Linked DNA regions of Homo sapiens: region 2 is linked to region 1. A link means that fine-mapping ties the variant in region 1 to the expression of a gene that starts in the linked region. Tissue or cell type: lung. Region 1 holds a variant in brackets; the other region holds the start of a gene. All regions are shown on one strand. Distances are between the middles of the regions.

Region 1 (2,681 bases):
TTATTTATTTATTTTTTTTTTTTGAGACAGGATCTTGCTCTGTCACCCAGGCTAGAGTGCAGTGGTGCAATCTTGGCTCACTACAATGTCCGCCTCCCAGGTACAAGTGATTCTCCTGCCTCCAGTGTAGCTGGTATGACAGGTGCCCGCCACCACACCTGGCTAATTTTTTGTATTTTTAGTAGAGACAGGGTTTCACCGTGTTAGCCAGGCTGGTCTCGAACGCCTGACCTAAAGTGATCCACGAGGCTGGGTAATTTATAAAGAGAAAAAGGTGTATTTGGCTTATGATTCTTCTGGCTGGAAGATTGGGCATACAGAGAAAGTCTTGAGCTGCTTCTACTCTTGGTGGAAGGAGAAAGAAAGCAGGGATCACGTGACAATAGAGGAAGCAAGAGAGGCAAGTGTCAGCCTCTCTTTAACAACCAACTCTAATGGGAACTAATGGAGGAAGAACTCACTCACCCACACTCCCAGGGAGGGCATTAATCTATTTGTGAGGGGTCCACCCCTGTGACCCAAACACCTCTCATTAGGACCCCATCTCCAACATTGGGGATCAAATTTCAACAACGAAATTTAGAAGGCAGCCTGGCCAACACGGGAAAACCCCGTCTCTCCTAAAAATACAAAAATTAGCCGGGCGTGGCATGTGCCTGTAATCCCAGCTACTCAGGAGGCGGAGGCAGAAGGGTCACTTGAACCCAGGAGGTGGAGGTTGCACTGAGCCAAGATTGTGCAACTGCACTCCAGCCTGGGTGACAAAGCAAAACTCTGTCTCAAAAAAAAAAAAAAAAAAAATTGGATGGGACATACATCCAAACTACTGCACATCATAACCAAGGTCATGAAGCACTCAGATTGGCCAGGTCTGACTCTTGTTCTCACTCTGAAATCCCTGGCAAGATCCAGTTAAAAAATGTATATTTTGCATGGGGAGGAGTGATAGGAAAATCAGATGTTTAAGAGAACAAAAAGAGAAGCTATAGATTGTGAGAAAATCTTTTCAAAACACCTTTCAGACAAAAAGCTGGTATCCAGGCCAGGTGTGGTGGCTCACATCTGTAATCCCAGCATTTTGAGAGGCCGAGGTGGGCGGATCACCTGAGGTCAGGAGTTTGAGACCAGCCTGGCCAACGTGGCAAAATGCTGTCTCTACTAAAAATACAAAAATTAGCCAGTCATGGTGGTGGGCGCCTGTAATCCCAGCTACTCGGGAGTCTGAAGCAAGAGAATCACTTGAACCTGGGAGGCGGAGGTGGCAGTGAGCTGAGATTGCGCCATTGCACTCCAGCCTGGGCAACAGAGCAAGACTTTGTCTGAAAAAAAAAAAAAGAAAGAAAGAAAAAGAAAAAAGAAAGCTGGTATACAAAGAACTAAAACTCAACAATAGGAAAACAAACAACCCAATTTAAAAATAGGGAACAGATCTGAACAGACACTTCAACAAAGAAGATATGCAGATGGCAAATAAGTAAATAAAAAGATAGTTGGCCAGGTGTGGTGGCTCCCGCTTATAATCCCAACACTTTGGGAGGCTGGGGCAGGAGGATCATTTGAGGCCAAGAGTTTCAGACCAACCTAGGCAACACACTGAGACGCCATCTCTACAAAAAATAAAAATAAAAAGGTCAGATGTGGTGGCT[C/G]ACACCTGCAATCCCAGCACTTTGGGAGGCCACAGCTGGTAATTCCCTTGAGCTCAGGAGGTCAAGACCAGCCAGGCAACGTGGTGAAACCCCATCTCTACGAAAAATACAAAAAACTAGCCAGGTGTGGTGTTGCACACCTGTGGTCTCAGCTACTTGGAAAGGTGAGGTCGGAGGATCACTTGAGTCTAGGAGGCAGAGGTTGCAGTCAGCAGAGATTCCAGTGCCACTGCATTCCAGCCTGGATGACAGAGCGAGACCCTGTTTCTAAATAAATAAATAAATAAAATAATAAAAATAGAAATAAAAAAATAGCCAGGTGTGACAGCACACAACTGTAGTCCCAGCTACTGGGGAGGCTGAGAAGGAGGATCTAAGAGTTGGAGGCGGCAGTGAGCTATGATTGCACTGCTGTACTCCAGCCTGGGCAACAGAGACCCTGTTTCTTAAAATAAATAAATAAACAAACAAACAAATAAATAAAAGGTACTTGGGCCGGGCGTGGTGGCTCACACCTGTAATCCCAGCACTTTGGGAGGCCAAGGTGGGCAGATCACCTGAGGCGAGGCATTCGAGACCAGCCTGATCGACATGGAGAAACCCCATGTCTACTAAAAATACAAAATTAGCCAGGCGTAGTGGCGCATGCCTGTAATCCCAGCTACTTGGGAGGCTGAGACAGGAGAATCACTTGAACCTGGGAGGCAGAAGTTGCAGTGAGCCGAGATCATGCCATTGCACTTCAGCCTCGGCGACAGAGCAAGACTCCGTCTCCAAAAAAAAGCGGGGCTCAACATCAAATGTCATTAGGAAATTGCAAATTACAGCAACGATGACATACGACAACCACCTATTAGAATGGTGAAAATCCAAAACATGAATAACACCAAGTGCTGATGAGGATGAGGAACGTCAGGAACTCTTATTCATCTCTGGCAGTAATGCAAAATGGTGCAGCCACTTTAGAAGACAATTTGGCACTTCCTTACAAAACTAAACACTCTTACCATATATTGCAGCACTCATGTTCCTTGG
Region 2 (2,681 bases), 27 kb before region 1:
TTTGATTTTTACCTAGAGGTTGTATTTATTTGGATGTCACTGATTGAGAGCACTGAGGGGGCCTCCGAGCCACCTCTCCAGGCTATGTAGATCTAGATCAAGCTTGTCCAACCCATGGCCTGAGGCCCGCATGCAGCACAGGACAGCTTTGAATGCGGCACAACACAAATTTGTAAACTTTCTTAAAACATTATGAGATTTTTTTGTGATTTTTTTTTTCTCATCAGCTATTGTTACTGTTAGTGTATTTTATGTGTAGCCCAAGACAACAATGCAGTCCAGGGAAGCCAAAAGATTGGACACCCCTGATCTAGACCTTACCCAAGGGATTTAACCTCCATGGGCCTCAGTTGTCTCCTCTGTGAAATGGGAATGTCATAATTGCACCCAAGTGAAAATTAAATGAGAAAACGCTTTCAAAGCACTTAGCACTTCACCACTTATAGGAAATGACAATTGCCATTAACTGCTATTAATATACCAGAAACTGTTACTCACTACTTTTGAGAAATATTCATTAAGTACCTAGTTGGTACCAATGTTTTGTCTACACTGACCGGTTTTTCAAACTGTGGATCCCTTAGGAAATAAGTTTATGGTGTGTATTTTGCTGATGAGGAAACGGGGCCTCAGAGCAAGAGGCGCACACAGGCAGGAGTTGGCCCAGGTGGGATTCAAACCCAGGTCCCTGCTAGTACCTCTATCCTGGCTGTGGCACTGTACCTTTGAGTCTCAGCTTCCGCTCCTACCACCGGCCTTCAGAGCGGCTCAGGTTGGAGGGCCTGAAGTCCTGGGTTCCTGGGAAGAGGGGCCTGGGGTCCCCGGACTTCTACCTCTGTGAGATAGCGGGGCGGAGAACTGGGCCCCCGGACCCTGGAGAAGCAGCACGTCGTGATCCTAGATCTCTGGGTCCCCAGTGTGGAAACCCACTGGGTCTCTGCTGCCTTAGTCCCGGGCAATCTCCCTGCTTCCTTGCTGAGGCCAAGTGATTTCGGCTTTCTTGCCGCGGGTTCGGAGTGGGGGAAGGAGGGGGTGCAGGGGGAGGAGCCGCGGACCTGCGACAGTGGCGAGGGGAGGAGCCGAGCCGGCACCGCGGCTGGCGCGCGGGGCTGCGGCGGCGGCGGCGGCGGCAGCGGCGGCAGCGGCGGCTCCGGGTGAGTCCGCTCCTCCCCCTCCTCCTGCCACAGCCCCAGCCCCAGTCAAATCCCTGGGGTCGGCCCCGGCGCATGGGGGCGGGGTAGATGCAGAGGCGCGTGGATCTCGGGCCGGGGAGTGGGAGCGCTGCAGCGCTCTCTGGCCACCCCGGGGGAGGGGCACGTGGCCCTGGAAGGGGGTCCCGAAACACCTGGGTGTATCCCACCCCTCGCCCACCGATCCCCAGCGCGGGGGGATCGTTTCCTCATTCCGTGGCCCCTAAGGACTTAGGGCTCCGTGGCTTTTCGAAGTCCCGGACATCGTTCCCCTCCCCTGAAGCGTCTTGGGACCCCAGCATCTTAACCCCCCAAAACCTTAAAAAAAAAAAAAAAATCCCATCCTCTCTGCAGCCCGGAGGCATTAAGGACTTCAACTCCCAGCAGATCCTGCAGCGCCGGGTCTATGAAGCCGCAGCAGCGCGAGCGCGAGACCTGCCGGGAATTGTAGTCTCTAAGCCCTCAACGGGAGCTGGGGGCCCGGAGGTGGGAGGGGGTGGCCGGGCTCCCAGTGGGTCGCCTGGGGTCGGGCAGCTGGCTCGAGTAGGGCAAGATGTGACTGTTAAGCTGAGCTTTTTCTCCCGGCCTCAGCCCCTAGATCAGACATTCTCTCTCATTACCCGGCGCGTGGGAACGGGTCCACAGCCCCTTGTCCGCCCTAGAACCCCCATGGGCTGCCGCCCGCCGCCGCCTCGGCTGCCACCCAGGACACGGCAGAGATAAGCGCAGGTGAGTGTGGCCATGCCTGTCTTGGAGTCCTGGCCTTCTGCAGCACCCCCACGACACCTGTCCATCTGTGAGCCCTGGTCTGTCTGTTCCTAATTCCCCTGCATCCCCTTCAACCCATCTTGATGCCTGGCTCCGAGCCATGTGTCACTAATTCCCCCTCTCCCCACATCCACCTCTCCTTCCTAGCCTCCTCTCATTTATGTGCTCATTGAACCTTCCCTTATGAACCCATGTCTGTCTGCCCAGCCCTCCTGTCTCCTTTTGTCTATCTGCGATCTCTAGCCATCATCTGCTGTCCTTGCCCACCCATCCATCCTCCCGTTCGACCGTTTCTCTTTCAAAGATATTTCTGCCCACACTCCTGCCTGCCCCTCTTCACCGTCTCTCGTCCTCTCGTCTCTCAAGCCCCCGTGAATTAATTACATCTCGGTTCATTCCTTGTCACTGTCCATCCCAAGTCTCAATCCTTGACTTTCCTTCTGCCTGCCTGTTCACCTCTCCATCTCTTCGGAGCCTCAGTCTGCCCTTCACATTATCTCTGTCTCCCCTCCCTGTATCTCTCCCTCCCTCAACTTGGTCCCCATCTCTGCATCTCCACCTCTCCACCCCCAGCTCCCACCATACCTATCCACCTCCAATCTCTCTACCCACATCCATCCTTCTCTCCTGGCCCTCCCCGCGTCTACCCCAGTCTGGCCTCCTTGGTCCCTGGACCCTCCAACTGCTTTCCTACCCTAAGCCCCTGTCATCCTGCTCCTACTG

Evidence for each region. PIP is the estimated chance that this variant, and not a neighbour inherited with it, causes the effect.
Region 2: SYT3 starts here. The variant in region 1 is fine-mapped to the expression of SYT3 in lung (GTEx, PIP above 0.99).

Annotation. Positions count from the first base shown.
Region 1 is chr19:50,610,884-50,613,564 of GRCh38, reverse strand. No RefSeq gene overlaps it. Among named protein-coding and RNA genes, the nearest start is that of SNAR-F, 7.3 kb to the right of the region's middle. The variant C/G (reference allele first, on the strand shown) is at 1,647.
Region 2 is chr19:50,638,263-50,640,943 of GRCh38, reverse strand. It overlaps SYT3 (synaptotagmin 3), which reads left to right and starts at 1,063. Exons shown (of 11, transcript NM_001160329.2): 1 at 1,063-1,154; 2 at 1,782-1,919. RefSeq lists an enhancer at 1,458-1,752.